2 linked regions of the Homo sapiens genome follow. The protein of the gene in region 2 purifies or fractionates together with the protein of the main gene of each other region. This does not show direct contact. Each region holds a gene or a part of one and is shown on either strand. Other genes may lie near its edges.

Region 1 (8,774 bases), on a different chromosome or scaffold from region 2:
GGCTGCTGGGCAGTGCAGCCCTGGGAGTGCAGGCCTAGGATCTTCCCTGACACTCACAGTTTCTGCCAGGAGCATGCCGGGCCCCACCCTCTTCATCTAAAGAGCCTTTCTTTGCTGCAAATGAGTTGTCTTAGTGACTTCTGACATGCTTACCCAGGTGCAGTGGCGTGTTCCCCAGCCCATCTCGCTGGTTAGGATCAGCACCATGGTCCAGGAGCAGCTGCACTGGAAACAGGCAAACCCAAGAGGAGTTGTCGGAGGCTTCCATTGCCTGCACCCTGAACCCCTAACCTAGCTAGAGAGGCTGGCTCAGAGTAGGGGACACGGAATGCAAGCATGGATGGCTGTGTTACTTCATTCATTCACTCACTCACTCACTTACTTACCAGAGTTCATGGGCAAAGCCCTGAGGGCCAGGAACTGAGGATTTGGGGAGGGCCTCTTGGCCTATGCAGGTGTAGGAATGAGATTTGAAGGGTTAAGTAAAGTTCTTCCAATAGCAGCTGCTCCTGGTGAAGGCTGTCCAGGGCATTTTCTGCTTCTCCCACAGCCAAGCACCATGGTAGGAATTAAGTCAATAAATGATGCTGAGCTCCATGGATAACCTCTCCCTCCTGGCAGTCTTGGGATCACCTCAGGGGTGTGCTGTATTATCACCAGGGTCTGCCAATACCCAGAAGGATGCATAGGCAGGTAGCCTGGATCCCAGACATCATACAGGGAGGTCAGGCTGAGCCTCACACCATGTACAAAAACTAATTCAAGAGGGACCATAGACATAAGTGTGAATGCTAAAACAGGCTTCCAGAAGAACATGAACATCTTGGGCAGGCAAAGATTTCTTAAATAGGTCACAAAAATACTAACCATAGGAAAGAAAAGGCCAGGCATGGGAGCTCAGGCCTGTTAATCCCAGCACTTTGGGATGCCGAGGCAGGTGGATCATTTGAGCTCAGGAGTTCAAGACCAGCCTGGGCAACATGGAGAAACCCTTTCTCTATACTAAAAACACAAAAATTAGCTGGGCATAGTGATGGCAGACTTGTAGTCCCAGCTACTTGAGAGGCTGAGGTGGCAGGGCGGCTTGAGCCCAGAAGGTCGAGGTTGCAGTCAGCCGAGATGGTGCCAGTGCACTCCAGCCTAGGCAACAGAGACAGACCCTGTCTCAAAAAAAAAAAAAAAAAAAAAAAAAAAAAAAGAGAAAGGAAAGAAATATTGATAAATTGGATTCATTAAAATTAAGAACATGGCTGGGCACGGTGGCTCATGCCTGTAATCCCAGCACTTTGGGAGGCCAAGGCAGCCAGATCATCTGAGGTCAGGAGTTCAAGACCAGGCTGTTCAACATGTTGAAACTGTCTGTACTAAAAACACAAAAATTAGCTGGGTGTGGTGGCATACCCCTGTAGTCTCAGCTACTTGGGAGGCTGAGGCAGGAGAATTGCTGGAACCTAGGAGGTGGAGGTTCCAGGGAGCCAAGATCATGCCACTGAACTCCAGCCTGGGTGACAGAGCGAGACTCTGTCTCCAAAAAATAAAAAATAAAATAGGCCAGGGCACAGGAGCTCACGCCTGTAATCCCAGCACTTTGGGAGGCCAAGGCGGGTGGATCATCGGAGGTCAGGAGTTCGAGACCAGCCTGACCAACATGGTGAAATCCCATCTCTACTAAAAATAAAAAATTAGGTGGGTGTGGTGACACGCATCTGTAATCCCAGCTACTCAGGAGGCTGAGGTGGGAGAATAGCTTGAACCTGGGGAGCAGAGCTTGCAGTGAGCCAAGATCACACCACTGCACTCCAGCCTAGGCAACAGAGTGAGACTCTGTCTCAAATAAATAAATAAATAAATAAAAATAAAATTAGGAACTTGTGTTCATCAAAGTATACCACTCAGAAAATGAAACAGCAAGCTCAGAAAATCAAGTCATTTATATTTGATAAATGATTTCTAACCAGAATATACAAAGAATTCTTACAAATCAATAAGAAAAAGGCCAGGCGCAGTGGCTCATGCTTGTAATCCCAATACTTTGGGAGGCCAAGGTGACAGGATCGCCTGAGCCCAAGAGTTAGAGAACAGCTGGGTAACATAGCAGGACCACGTCTCTACAAGATGTTTTAAAATTAGCTGGGCTTGGTGGTGTGCACCTGTCGTCCCAGCTACTTGGGAGGCTGAGGCAGGAGGATTGCTTGAGCCTAGGAGATTGAGGCTGCAGTGGGCAGTGATCAGGCCACTGCACGTAAGCCTGGATGACAGAGTGAGACTTTGTCTCAAAAAAAGAAAAAGACAGAAAACTAGTTTTTTTTGTTTGTTTGTTTGTTTTTGAGACAGAGTCTTGCTTTCTCTCCCAGTCTGGAGTGCAGTCACGCGATCTCGGCTCACTGTAAGCTCCGCCTCCCGGCTTCACACCATTCTCCTGCCTCAGCGAGTAGCTGGAACTACAGGCACCCGCCACCACACCCGGCTAAGTTTTTGTATATTTAGTAGAGATGGGGTTTCACCGTGTTAGCCAGGATGGTCTCGATCTCCTGACCTCATGATCCACCCGCCTCGGCCTCCCAAAGTGCTGGGATTACAGGCGTGAGATACCGCGCCCAGGCAAAACTTGTTTTTAAAAAAATGGACAAAAGAGGCCAGGTGCGGTGGCTCACGCCTGTAATCCCAGCGCTATGGGAGGCCGAGGCGGGTGGATCACCTGAGGTCAGGAGTTCGAGACCAGCCTGACCAACATGGAGAAACCCGGTCTCCACTAAAAATACAAAATTAGCCGGGCGTAGTGGCGCATGCCTGTAATCCCAGCTACTTGGGAGGATGAGGCAGGAGAATCACTTTAACCCGGGAGGCAGAGGTTGTGGTTAGCCGAGATCACGCCATTGCACTCCAGCCTGGGCAACAAAGAGTGAAACTCTGTCTCAAAAAAAAAAAAAAAAAAAAAAAAAGGACAAAAGATTTGAACATATAGTTCATAAAAGAGGATGTAAAAATGGTCAATAATTGGACACAGGGAGGGGAACATCACATACCAGGGCCTGTCGGGGGGTGGGGGCCAAGGGGAGGGAGAGCATTAGGACAAATACCTAATGCATGAGGGGCTTAAAACCTAGATGACGGGTTGATGGGTACAGAAAACCACCACGGCACAGGTGTACCTATGTAACGAACCTGCACGTTCTGCACATGCATCCCAGAACTTAAAGTTTAAAAAAAAAAATGGCCCGGGCATGGTGGCTCACACCTGTAATCCCAGCACTTTGGGAGGCCGAGACAGGTGGATCTCCTGAGGTCAGGAGTTTGTGACTAGCCTGGCCAACATGGTGAAACCCTGTCTCTACTAAAAATACAAAAATTAACTGGGTGTGATGATGCGTGCCTATAATCCCAGCTACCCGGGAGGCTGAAGCAGGAGAATTACTCAAACCCAGGAGGTGGAGGTTGCAATGAGCCGAGATCACGCCATTGCACTCCAGCCTGGGCGACAGGCAAGACTCCGTCTCAAAAAAAAAAAAAAAAGGCCAATAAACACATGAAGAGGTGCTCAACGTTACTGGCCATCAGAGAAATGCAAATTAAACCACTATGAGACACCAAAAGGGTTAAGATTAAAGAGAGACAACAGCAAGCACTGGCAGGGACGTAGGGAAAGGTGGAACTCTTACACTGCTGGTGGGGAGTGGGAGTGTGTGTCAGTACATCCCTTTTGGGAAAAGGTTTAGTAGTACCTACTAAAGCTAAATACATGTGTACCCTAGTGACCCAACAATGCCATTCCTAGGTTTATAGAGGATAGATGAGTGTTTACAGCCACAAATCACATATACAAGAATGTTCACAACACTTCATTCATAAAGCTAAAACCTGGAAACACCACAAATGTCCGTCAATAGTAGAATGGATAAATGGGGTATATCACAATGAAATACAAACCAGCATAAGAAAGTACTAACTACAGTCCACCCTCCCTAACTGTGAATACTGTGTCCACAGATTCAATGAACCCTGGACTCAGAACCCGAGGATATGGAGGGCCAACTTCAAAGGACTTGAGCATCCATGGAGTTTGGTATCTGAGTGGGGTCCTGGAACCAATCCCAAGAACACTGAGGGAAGACTGTACTGATATAGGCAGTATTCATGGGTGAATCTCATGGAGATAACTTTGAGTAAAAGTATGCAAGGCTGGTGCAGTGGCTCACGCCTGTAATCCCAGCACTTTGGGAGGCCAAGGCAGGTGGATCACGAGGTCAGGAGTTCAAGACCAGCCTGGCCAACATGGTGAAACCCCATCTCTACTAAAAAATACAAAAAAATTAACCGGTGTGGCCGGGTGCAGTCTCTCATGCCTGTAATCCCAGCACTTTGGGAAGCCGAGGCGGGTGGATCACGAGGTCAGGAGATCGAGACCATACTGGCTAATACAGTGAAACCCCGTCTCTACTAAAAACATATAAAAAATTAGCCAGGCATGGTGGCGGGTGCCTGTAGTCCCAGCTACTTGGGAGGCTGAGGCAGGAGAATGGCGTGAACCCGGGAGGCAGAGCTTACAGTGAACCGAGATGGCACCACTGCACTCCAGCCTGGGCGACAGAGCGAGACTCCATCTCAAAAAAAAAAAAGACTCCTATAAAAAGAGAAAAGCTGTCCTGCTGCTGTGGTTGGCACTGAGTAAATGTTACCTGAAAGTCTTGAAGGCCTGGGCCCTGCACTCTCCAGTGGTCTCTTAGTTGGAGATATCCCTTCATCCTCAGTCAATCATATTATCTCCCCCAGGTTTACCCTGCCCCAGTCTAACATTGCCAGTTCCACAGGCTAACAGAGGGAGAAGGGCAGGGCACTGCAGTGCCAAGTCTTCCTTATATCCAGAACAACTGGGCATCCCAAGGCTGTGCAGACAGCAGCGCCTCCCCCAAGGCCTGTGCAGAGACACTACTTGCCTAGCCCTACTCCCTCCTCCCTCCCCAGGACTCACCAATCTGGTCATTGCCATTGCATGAGGCAAAGTGTAGAGCTGTGCGGCCCTTGTCATCAGCTGCACAGGGATCCGCGCCATCTTCCAGCAGCTGCTGCACTGACACCACCAAGACAGAGGGAGGAAGGGGGAGAAAGCGGCGATGTTAGCTAAGCTGCAGACCCGAGCGATGGAGAGGGAGGCTCAGGGGTGCCTCTAGACAAGACATCGACAATGCATAGGAAAGCAGCCCTTCCTAGATGCTGGTCCTATGGGAACAAGCAACTTGTTCTTCTGAGGGCACAACTGAAGGCCATGGATTCTGAGTGCTCAAACTACACGTCTAGTGATAGAACATCGTAGGAGGTTCAAGGCCCTCAGGGTCAGAAATTTTAGGGTCACAGGAATCCCTAGCATAGACAGTGGTCCCCCTCCCGTGACCTCGGCTTGGATACACATCCATTCTGGCTGGAAACAGCTGCCCAAGCTATTGGCCTATGCTATGCTCCCAGCAGGCAGCAATCCCCCAGCTACTTGGGGCCTCCCAAGTAGCCCCCAGCTAATTTTTGTATTTTTAGTAGAGACGGGGTTTCACCATATTGGTCAGGCTGGTCTCGACCTCCTGACCTTAGGTGATCCGCCCACTTCAGCCTCCCAAAGTGCTGGGATTACAGGCGTGAGCCACCACACCCGGCCCGAAAAAATGTTTATGATACACAAAAAATTATGCAGGCTACAGCATGTGTATATAGCAGTTTGCAAGCCAGCCCATAAAGAAAATTCCAGTGTATAGGAAAGAAGCCTTGAAGGATATTCATCAAAATATTAACAGATTAGTTCCTTTGCGGACATGGATTTTTTCTTATATATTTCTCTAATTTCCACAACATTTTTAAAAAATTTTTTTCTTATGTTATTTATTTATTTGAGACAGAATTTCGCTCTGTCGCGCAGGCTAGAGTGCAGTGGCGTCATCTCCGCTCACTGCAAGCTCTGTCTCCCAGGTTCACACCATTCTCCTGCCGCAGCCTCCCAAGTAGCTGGCACTACAGGCGCCCACCACCACGTCCGGCTAATTTTTTGTATTTTCAGTAGAGATGGGGTTTCACAGTGTTAGCCAGGATGGTCTCGATCTCCTAACCTCGTGATCTGCCCAGCTCGGCCTCCCAAAGTGCTGGGATTACAGGCGTGAGCCACCGCGCCCAGCTAACATTTACTTTTTGTAGAGACGAGGTCTCCCTATGTTGTCCAGGCTGGTCTCAAACTCCTGAGCCCAAGTGATCCTCTTGCCTTAGCCTCCCAAAGTGCTGGGATTACAGGCATGAGCCACCTCACCTGGCCGTGGCAGCTAAGTTGAGTATTCACTCCCATTAACCACAAGTTCCAAAGTTAGTGCCTACTCTTTGCAGAAGACTGTGCTGGCTGCCAGGGATACAAAAGTATACATGGTCTCCACCATCAAGGAGTCCACAGGGTGGTAAATGCTATGACATCAGGAAGTTCAAAGTGACAGGGGAGCATGGGGAGAGTGAGTGTCTAAGCCAGACTTACCTTCAGCAAGATGACTGCACAGTCAGACAATAAATACAGTGAGCCTGCTCCAAGGGCGTGAGTTTGCAGACTGCCTTCCCACATATTGATTACCTGGCCTTTTCCTTCCCCAACCAGCCCATGGGACCCTGTAGCTGGACCTACTGTGCACACTCACCTGTTTCCACATCATTGGCATTGGCCGAGTCCCTCAGTCTCTTCAGAGCTGTAAAGAGAGTAACGGATGCCAGTTTAAAAAAACAGCCATGGCTGGGTGCGGTGGCTCATGCCTATAATCCCAGCACTCTGGGAGGCCAAGGCAGGCAGATCACAAGGTCAGGAGATCGAGACCATCCTGGCTAACATGGTGAAACCCCATCTCTACTAAAAATACAAAAAAATTAGCCGGGCGTGGTGGCAGGTGCCTGTAGTCCCAGCTACTCGGGAGGCTGAGGCGGGTGAATGGCGTGAACCTGGGAGGTGGAGCTTGCAGTGAGCAGAGATCGCGCCACTGCACTCCAGCCTGGGTGACAGAGTGAGACTCCGTCTCAAAACAAACAAACAAACAAACACACACAAAAAAAACACAGCCATTGGCTGGGCATGATGGCTCACGTCTGTAATCCCAGCACTTTGGGAGGCCGAGGCAGGTGGATCACTTGAGGCCAGGAGTTCAAAACCAGCCTGGACAACATGGTGAAACCCCATCTCTACTAAAAATACAAAAAAATTAGCCGGGTGTGGTGCACATGCCTGTAATCCCAGCTACTCTGGAGGCTGAGGTAGGAGAATCACTTGAACCCAGGACATGGAGGTTGCAGTAAGCCAAAATCGCGCCACTGCACTCCAGCCTGGGTGACAGAGTGAGACGCTGTCTCAGAAAAAAACAAAAACAACAAAAACCAACAAAAAAAACCCAGCCATCTAGCTGGGTGTGGTGGTGTGCACGTGTAACACCAGCTACTTAGGAGGCCGAGGTAGGAGAATGGGTTGAAGCCGGAAGGCGGAGGCTACAGTGAGATGAGATCACGCCACTGCATTCCAGCCTGGGCAACAAAGTGAGACTGTCTCAGGAAAAAAAAAAAAAAAAAAAGCCACAATGGCTGGGCGCAGTGGCTCATGCCTATAATCCCGGTACTTTGGGAGGCCAAGGCAGGTGGATCACTTGAGGCCAGGAGTTCAAGACCAGCCTGGCCAACATGCTGAAACCCCATCTCTACTAAAAATACAAAACTAGCCATACGTGGTGACTCACGCCTGTAATCCCAGAACGTTGGAAAGCTGAGGTGGGCAGATTGCCTGTGCTCTGGAGTTTGAAACCACCCTGGGCAACATGGTGAAACCTTGTCTATACTAAAATACAAAAAATTAGTTGGGCATGGGGGTGCACGCCTACAATCCCAGCTACTTGGGAGGCTCAGGCAGGAGAATCGCTTAAGCCCAGGAGGCAGAGGTTGCAGTGAGCCAAGACTGTGCCACTGTACTCCAGCTCGGGCAACAGAGTGAGACTCTGTCTCACACAAACACACACACACACACACACACACACAAAAAACATAGGCCGGGCACAGTGGCTCACGCCTGTAATCCCAACACTTTGAGAGGCCAAGGTGGGTGGATCACGAGGTCAGGAGTTTGAGACCAGCCTGGCCAATAAGGTGAAATCCCTTCTCTACTAAAAATACAAAAATTAGCCAGGCATGGTGGTGCATGCCTGTTATCCCAACTACTCAGGAGGCTAAGGCAGGAGAATCACTTGAACTTGAGAGCCGGAGGTTGCAGTGAGCCAAGATCGCGCCACTGCACTCCAGCCTGGGCAATAGAGCAAGACTCTGTCTCAAAATAAATAAATAAATAAATAAATAAATAAATAAATAAATAAATAAATAAAATAAAAACACAAAAATTAGCCGGGTGTGGTGGTGCATGCCTGTAATCCCAGCTACTTGGGAGGCTGAGACACGAGAATCACTTGAGCCCAAAATCACACCATGGCACTCCAGCCTGGGTGGCAGAGCAACACTCCATCTCAAAAAAAAAGAAAGAAAAAATATTTCTCAATCTTAGGTTAAGTTCTAACTTAAATCAATCTAACATGGTAAAACCCCATCTCTACTAAAAATACAAAAACTAGCTGGGTGTGGTGGTGCGGGCCTGTAGTCCCAGCTACTTGGGAGGCTGAGGCAGTGAGCCGAGATTGCACCACCTGCACTGCAGCCTGGGTGGTAAAGCGAGACTCTCGTCTCAAAAAAAGAAAAGAAAGACAGTGCCCTGGGAACAAGGAGAAACTTGAAAT
Region 2 (9,184 bases):
CCTCCCAAAGTGCTGGGATTATAGGCATGAGCCACTGCGCCCGGCCACCAATGACATAATTTAAGAAAATTTCCCAAACTGAAGAATGAAAGTTTCCAGATTCAAAGAGCCCAACACAATGCATGAAAACAGACCCAAACCTAGGCACAGTGTCGTGAAATTTTAGGACTGTGGAGGCCAAGAGAAAATTCTATAAACTTCAGGGAGGACCCAGCAAATTGTAACCTGTACACAGATTACAAGAAAAAGCTGAGGAATCAGTAGAGTTCTAAATTTCTCAACAGCAATACCACAATGTGGAAGTCAATAGAACAATGCCTTCAAAATTGCCATCTTAGAAATCTACACTCAGTCAAACTATCAATTGTCAGTTGAAAACACATTTTCAGGCATCTACAGTCTCAGAAAAGTAGACCTCTAGGCATCCTATTCCAGGAAGCTCCTTTAGGATGGGCTCTACCAAAAGAAGGGAGTCAACCAAGACTGAGGAAGACATGTGCTACAAGTACCAGGAGATCCAACACAAGAGACAAATGATGAGAATCTCCAGAATGATGACAAAGGGAACCCTTGGGGTGACAAGTGTGCCAATGTACCAAAGGCACCCAGTCTGGATTATAGCAAGCCAGTAGGCTCAGGAACAGCTTCTTGAGGAAAACGAAATTGACAAAATACCTGGTCAATTGAGGGAGAATTTGGAAAACTGGCCAAGAGCTGTGGGTTTAATCAATGAAGAGCACAAAATAAATAAAATGAACAAACAAATCCATTATTAACTCCAAGGAAAATAAAAAGTTATGTTTGGTCACGCCTGTAATCCCAGCACTTTGGGAGCCCAAGGCAAGTAGATCACCTGAGGTCACGAGTTTGAGACCAGCCTGATTAACATGGAGAAACCCCATCTCTACTAGAAATACAAAAATTAGCTAGGCGTGGTGGCACATGCCTGTAATCCCAACTACTCAGGAAGCCGAGGCAGGAGAATCGCTTGAACCCGGGAGGCAGAGGTTGTGGTGAGCCAAGATCGTGCCATTGCATTCCAGCCTGGGCAACAAGAGCAAAACTCTGTCTCAAAAAAAAAAAAAACGAAAAAAAAGTTATGCTTGGCTTAGCTGTGAATTTTGATCTAACCATTATTCAATATTCTGTTTTAACGACTGCAAGAATGGGAAAATAGGGAAGCTGTACTTGCGTTGGGGGTTGGAGGGAAAAAGAGAGCCAACTCATCATCTTCCACAGTGGGAAGTCAACAGATAATGCTTAAAATTGAAAAATCAAGAAGTATCAACTATAAGCCACAAATGGCAAAGAATTACAAGTGGTTGTTTCTGGAAAGGGAGAAATGTAACTTGGATAAAAGTTTAAAACTATAAACCATAACAAAACAAACTTTGGCTTCTGTGCCCACACATTTTTACATTTGTTTGCTTTTTCTTTGTTTCCCTAATAACAATCTGTTTTGAAAAAGCCCATCCTTGTTTCTCTAAACAAAAGAGTATGTAATTCTCTACATCTATACTACAGTAGCTGCGGTCATCTGAGCTCTGAGCAGTCAAACATGGTGGGGAAATTAATTGTTACAATCCAATCCCAGAAGAATTGGTTGAGCTGGGGTAGTGACAATAAGGCAAGCCCAAGCACAGGCGTGTTTGGAGGTGGAGGCAACTACTAGGCCCCTTCCTTCTGGGTTGTTTCTTATTTTTCCACAAACCTTTTATAATAGCATAACCACATCGTACAGGATAATTTTACAATTGCCAGTGACCATGAGCCAATTTCACTTTTTTCCAACAGACTTGAATGCCCAATTTATGATCGTAATTAGTCCAACCAAGGCAGCTGGCCCCCAAGACTGTTGATCTGGGTTTGACTTCAGTAACTCCACTTTGCCTGCTGTAGACTGGACAAGAAGGGAGCATAATAAAGGCTCTGAAGCAGCAGACATCCAAGGAGCATCCACGGGGAACCAGCACCATGCTGAAGATCAACACTCATGCTGACTCTGCAGACCAAGTACCCCTGCCCTGAACAACATGGTGATTTGTCTAGGGGTAAGAATCTGGGAGGGGTGGGGTGGAAGCTAAGGAGCTGGAACAGCTGGGGCAGGGAGGAGAGGCACCAACCTGGTCAACCTGGAGGAACCTGTAGGCAGAGGTGTGGCTGGAGGCCCAAGGCCCTGTCTCCCAGCACTCTGGATACCCGGAGAAAGGCAGAGAGGCCAGTAATTCTTCCCCAAGCGTAAAAGTAGGCCAGACACTGCTCACAACCCTTCCAACCTCCCTATCAAGGGTCAACTTAAGGAAGCAAAGGTTACCATTATCTCAGCTTTATTTTCCACGGTTTGGTAAAACATAGCTGCTGCCCTTGAGTAACTAGCTGCTGAGAAAACATGATTATCTTGATAAAGAATAAAGTAGGTTGAAAATGCTAGAGCATACATTAATATTCTATATCCTTTCCTAGTTGGGAAGATGTGAAAATTCTAGTTGGACCTATGTGGGGCAAAGGTATTGCCAACTAGAGTAAAGCACTGACTGCATGAGTTTACACTTGGCCTATACAGTTCCACAGACCAGAATGTACACACCCTTGTGAGAAGAGTCAAGATCATTAACATAAACACACCACAGTAAGCATCTGCGTTGGCAAGAGTGTAATATATGGATCAGATTAACTGGAGTATGGGGAAAGTGTAAGTCTTCCGTAAACATTGAAAATGTAACTAAACTAAAAAATACTTTCAAATACATAATGTGAAAGTTACCCATACTTCTATTTTCCCCTTAGAAATAAATCTTAATATCCCTTACTCCAGGTGATTATTGCAGAGTAAGCAGCTACCAGTGTCACGACCTAAACTGTTAAATCCCAAACTTTATTTGGGAGATCCGCTGGTTTGTTTCTTCCCAGCTCTTTAGCAGAGAATAATCTAGAAGTGAGTAAATTCTCAGAATTTCCCAAGAGGAAAATGAGCATTCACTGGAAAAATACAAGGAATACGCGCAAAACTTATAACTATTTTGGATAATCTTCAAACCCACTTAGCCACCAGCCATCCTGTTGTTCCAAGTTAACATTAAGATCAATCTTTCGAATCAAATATTCCAGTTTCCAAAGAATAGCAATGGATGAGATTGTTTCCAAACCTGGTACACACCACCATGTTACACGTCCACGGGAAAAATAAAATAAAATAAAATCCACAAGAAATTTAGGATTAAAGAAAATTAGGAAAGTGTACACTCCCAGGTCAAGGCCCTAGTTTTTCCAAGAAGTACATACATTGGCCGGGCACCTGTTTTCAATATTCAAACACAACTTCCCGGGGCGAGGTGGGCGGGGTATTGGGGGGGTGGGGAAGAGAACGTGAACTTCACTGGGTGAGTCACGTGCAACTGCGGAACATCTTGGCCGATACTGCCAAATTTTTTTTTTAATACTTTAAGTTCTAGGATACATGTGCACAACGTGCAGGTTTGTTACATATGTATACATGTGCCATGTTGGTGTGCTGCACCCATTAACTTGTCATTTACATTAGGTATATCTATCTCGACACTGCCAAATTTCAATCAAGATCGCGCCGCCGCCCAACCCGAAAGGAGGCATCAGCCCTGCTCGCCGCTGGGACGTGACCCCAACGCTGAACTTGCCGCAGGGCGGCCTCAGGCCTGGAACTTCAAGAAAAAGGGGCGGGTGTTCCTTAGGAGAGGTCAGTGCGGGAGTTGGAGAAGTGGAGAATCTACTGCCGGCAGGAAGGCGAGGCTGCGCCACTGCGCGCACCTGTCCCTCCTTCCCGGACCGAAGAGGGGACCCAGAGACGGCGCACCCGCGCTCACTGCGGCACGGAGGGGAGAAAATCCTTCCCCGTTCCTCGAGGGGCGTGTGGAAGCCGCCTCTTGCCGCGCTCATCCCCCTCCCCACCCGTCCTCGCCCGGAGTATCGCACTCCCGGGGCCGCCCCAGCCCGCCCGCGGCGCCCTTACCTGGCTGAAGCGCGGCTGCTGGGCGGACCTGGGGAGACTGCGAGGTGCAGTCTGCGCCGCGGAGTCCGGAGCCTAGCGCCCCAGAGTCCAGAGCAAAGCGCCCCGCCCCGCCCTCTGATCTCCCCGTCCCGCCCCCAATCACCCCGCCCCGCCCCGATTGCTGGCCCCGTGGACGCCCTACCCCGCCTCTGATCCTGCAGGCCCGCCCAGTCCTCGATCGCCCCGCCCCGGTCGCTTGGGCCCTGGGTGGCAGGTTTGCGCAGCCCTGCGGCGATTTCAAGGCAAGTGACCGGAATGGGTCGGAAGCGCGTCCCGGTGAGTTTCAGGGAGCGTCCCTTAGGTTTCCGGGGGCGGCGTTGAACCTCCCTAGCCCCAGTCTTCCCATCCCAGGAGACCCGCCCCTAGTGGCTCGAACGCCCCTAGCCAGGAGAGCCCCGAGTAGTGCCACTTGTGGAAGACTACGTGCCTGTCGGAATTAGGAACCGCACCTCCCCTTCCGCTAAGCGGTGGGAGGCCAGGCGGGTGACGCGGAGCAGTGGAGCCATGCAGCCTGTTTTACCAAAAGAGTAAGTGGTTTTCCTGTGAAACCCGAGGGAGCAGTGCATATCTGATACACTTAGAGGGTCACGTGCACTATTAATGTGTTAACATTAAACTCACTGAAGAGTAGAAAACACATGTAAGACTTAACTGTGTGCCAGGCACTGTTCTAGGTACTTCACATGTACTAAAAGTTCTCTGAAGCGTATATTATCAGAATCCCCCTTTTCACATACGGTGCAAGTGAGGCAGAGAGAAGCTAAATAACTTGCCTAATGTCACCCAACTAGTAAATTGAGAAGCTGGGTTGAGAAGCTGGGCTTCAAATCCAGGTCTTCCTCCTCTGGAGTCTCCACTGTTATTCACGGCTATCCTGAATCAGCAAAATCTGTGTGCATCCTATACCAGGAACTGTTCCCATGCCTGGGGAAGATGAGGCAAGGACTCTGCCATTAGGAAACTTTTATTCTACTGTAGGAGAAAGACAATAAGTGATTGTCGACTAAAATTTAAAAATCAAGCTGTTAAAGAATGAAAGTTAGTTTTATTCAGAAGTCTTACTGAGGACTAGAGATGGAGGCCTACAGCCCTGGAGGAGTCTTTTAGAGAGATTCAAGCAGATCCCTCCAACACAGAACTTCCCTTCTCAATTTAGAAACAGTTGGTGAAGATTCAGTATGTGTAAAAGCACATCACAGTTTGGGCTTAAGAGTACATCTGTTTATAGATTACAGAAGCATAATCACTAACCTCATCAGACTTTATCTTAGGTGCAGTAAAAGGCAAGGGCTCAGGCAAGAGACGTGGGGGATCCTGTGTTCTATCTCGTTTTGTCTTCAAAGCATCTTTCCGCCAGCTGCAGGTGGTCACAGAGTCAGGGGCTGTGTGAAATTATGCTGACAAGCAGAAATGAGCAAGCATGGCTTCTTAACGTTTGTTACTTGTCTCACATGATCAACAGGCAAGCAAAAAATTAAACCACTTCGTAAGTGAGGTGTCTTGACTAAAATAAAGCAGGGTGATGGAATTGAGAGTGAAAGGGAGAGGGAGGCTACTTTAGATATGATGTTACTGGAGGCTTCTCTGGGGTAACAGTGGAGCTGAGACCTGAATGATAGGACAGACGGCCAACCCAAGGCTGAAGCTAAGGGAATGGCAAGTGCTTTGATACTTATCACACCTCATGCTTGCTTGGGACTTAAAAGTAGTGCCTTCCTATATCATTTCTCCTTTGATCACTGTAATAACCCTGAGAAGTCTAACAAGATTCCATTTAATACAGTGGTCCCCAACCTTTTTGGCACCAGGGACTGGTTTTATGGAAGATAATTTTTCCATGGACAGGTGTCAGGAAGAGATGGTTTGAGGATGAAACTGTTCCACCTCAGATCATCAGGCATTAGATTCTCGTAACGCGTACACCACCTAGATCCCTCGAATGCACAGTTCACACTAGGGTTTGCACTCCTGAGAGAATCTAAGGCCAAGGCTGATCTGACAGGAGGCGGAGCTCAGCCGTAATGCAGGCAATGGGGAGTGGCTGTAAATACAGATGAAGCTTTGCTCCCTTGCCCACCGCTCAACCGCTTACCTCCTGCTATGCGGCCAGGTTCCTAACAGACCTCAGACCGGTACTGGTCCACAGCCTGCGGGTTGGGGAACCCTGATTTAACAGGGAAAACAATAACAGCAACAACAACTGAGGGTCAGAGAGGTTTCAATGACTTTCCAAAAGTCAGACAACTATCTAGGAAAAGGGGAGATGGGAAGAGGGCACAGATTTGGACCAAGGCCTTCTGATTACAAATCCTCTCTCCAGTGAGGACTTTGAGTATAATGACTAGTACTTTGAATGAATCTAGTAAAATTTCTTTTTTATGATCTACTCTCTCCTCCCTACCCGAGTCTCTCCTGCCTCTTGTCCCATTCAGGTACTTGTTTTGGCTAGTTAACGTAATTTCCCCTAGCACAGATGTACTTTGAGGGGACAGGACCATAAACCATCTGAAACTCTATGCAAAAAAACTGTGTTGGGGGGCAGGAAAGAGAGTTATAGATATATAATTATAGTAATACAGTTAATTTTCTCCCAAGAAAAATGCTTATGTACGTATATTTTTAAGTGAGAGGACTTAGAACTTTTATCATATTGACTGATCCCAAAAAGGTAAGAGCTACTGCCTTAAGGAATTAACTGATATTATGATGGTTAGAAGAACCAGTTTCCAATTCGCCTTGCCTGTTCTTGGTAGGTGATGGTAGCTCATATTCTTGACAATGGTAATGAGGATCTCAATGTTTATGAAGTTTGAAAAGGCAGAAAACCCAGACCCTTACATAATTTCTTCATAAAGTTTAAATTAAAAGAGAGAAAAGTGTCTGTATTGTCCCTACTAACTCTCAGAAAAGCCAAAGAGAACAGATCTGTAAATAAAACACCTAGATCCAACATAATTCTTAATAGTTGGGGTAATTTTCATAAAGTTATAGTTTTCTAAATAAGACATTTGTTACACTATCAATCATACAGTTTAAGTAGGCAATTGCCACAGGTATACCATCCATAGATCACATAATAGAGAACAATGGCAATTTTTTTCAGCAAGGTGTTGAGAAAGAGACAGAGAGACAGACAAAAAAAAGAGGCCATTAGGGAACTTCAACTACATTAAGGAAAAGGTGTAAAAACTGAACTCAGAATGTGGTGGGATTAATAAAAAAGATTTAGTCTTTCTTTAATTTTTATTTTTTAGGTGAAAACAGAATACTACATTTGGGCCTGTATAATTCAAACTTTTACATTCGTCCCTAGTCAAAAGAAGGAATCTAGTAGTTGACTTAAAAAGATTTCTCCCCCTGCCTCCAAAAAGAAGACTCAAACAATATTAGTAAAACCATCTTTATTTTAAGAAAATCAAGATACAGAGAAAAAGGTATTAATATAAACTTCTTGGGAGACAAGACTCTCCCTTCTTACAAGATATCGCTATGGCTTCCATAAAGTTTATTTGTTTAGATGATCAGTATCAGGTTGACATAATTTCAGTTCCTTGAGAGACGAAAATGCCTCTTTTTAACTTACATGTAGATTCCACATGGTACAGAAGAAGACATGCAGAATCAACCTGGAAGGTTTGCAAAAATATATGTGTGTATATATTTGTATTTATAGCTTCTTGCCTTTTTTTTTTTTTTCTGAGACAGAGTCTTGTTCTGTTGCCCAGGCTGGAGTGCAGTGGCACAATCTCGGCTAACTGAAACCTCTGCCTCCTGGGTTCAAGCAATTCTCCTGCCTCAGCCTCCTGAGTAGCTGGGATTACAGGTGCCTGCCACCACGCCTGGCTAATTTTTGTATTTTTAGTAGAGATGGGGTTTTACCATGTTGACCAGGCTGGTCTTGAACTCCTGACCTTGTGATCCGCCCGCCTCAGCCTCCCAAAGTGCTGAGATTACAGGCATGAGCCAGCATGCCCGGCCAGCTTCTTGCATTCTTTTGTGCAAGTCACTGGTTTTATTTTGTAACCATCTTCCTACTGAAAAGGAAACTGGCCCATCATAGATAATTAATACATTTGTTGATGAATAAATGATGATGACAATGACGATAATGCAGACCTTATCAGTCTTCCATGGAGAGTCTGTTCCTACATGAAGATGACTTCATTGTGATCCTATGATATGTCTGCTTCTCCTTCCATCATGTGCTGAAAGTAGTTGCTTCTTTAGAACTATTGCATAGAAGGAAGGAGTTTCAAATATTGGACACAGAATCAATAATCATATTTCTGGGAAGAGATGCTAAATAAATAATTCAAAAGAAATAAAAAGCATCATATGCAAAGTATATTTATAAGATCATTATAATAATAAAATAAATGTCCAATAATAAGGAAATGTTTAAGTAAAATATATTAACAGTATGGAATGTCAAGCTGTCATTTAAAATTACCTATGTTGGTCAGGCATGGTGGCTCACACCTATAATCCCAGCACTTTGGGAGGCTGAGGCGGGTGGATCTTTTGAGCTCTGGAGTTCAAGACCAGCCTGGACAACATGGCGAAACTCCATCTCTACTAAAAATACAAATATTAGCCAGGCTTGGTGGTGCTCACCTGCAGTCCCAGCTATTCGGGAGGCTGAGGTAGGAGGATTGCTTGAGCCCAGGAGGGCAGGGTTGCAGTGAGCTGAGATCGTGCCACTGCACTCCAACCTGGGCAACAGAGCAAGAACCTGTCTCTAAATAAGTTAATTAATTAATTAAATAATAAAATAAGATTACCTATGTTAATGAAAAAGAGATAGGAAATAAAACTTATGAACAAGATTATATTTTTAAAAGTAGAACACAATGCTTTGAGTACCTGTAATTGCAACTAAATACAAATTATGTGGAGGAAAACTGAAAAGTAAGAATTATGATTAACAGTTATTGAGGGGATGTGCCAGCATCCTTTCTAAGCATATTAGATTAATTCATTTAATTCTCACAGCTGTGTGAGGTGGACTATTGTTATCTTCATTTTACAGATGAAGAAACAAAGGCAGAGAAGGTCTAAGTAATAGCCCAAAATCATAGTTATTGAGTGGCAAAGCCCAGATGTGAACATAAAACAGTATAACTCCAGGGTTTACATTTTTAACCTTTCAAAGCTGCCAAA

The links. Proteins that work in one complex are often made in the same cells at the same time.
Region 1: the proteins of TEC (region 2) and ANKRD54 purify together in Homo sapiens (affinity purification with mass spectrometry; 2 studies listed by BioGRID and IntAct, with this or other methods). This does not show direct contact.

Annotation. Positions count from the first base shown.
Region 1 is NC_000022.11:37,833,531-37,842,304, forward strand, and holds part of ANKRD54 (ankyrin repeat domain-containing protein 54), read right to left. Parts: intron 6,705-8,774; coding exon 6,657-6,704; intron 5,069-6,656; coding exon 4,970-5,068; intron 448-4,969; coding exon of another isoform or gene 387-447; intron 226-386; coding exon 154-225; intron 1-153. UniProt on the Homo sapiens protein: Plays an important role in regulating intracellular signaling events associated with erythroid terminal differentiation.
Region 2 is NC_000004.12:48,265,767-48,274,950, forward strand, and holds the start of TEC (tyrosine-protein kinase Tec), read right to left. Parts: upstream 4,073-9,184; 5' UTR 3,986-4,072; intron 1-3,985.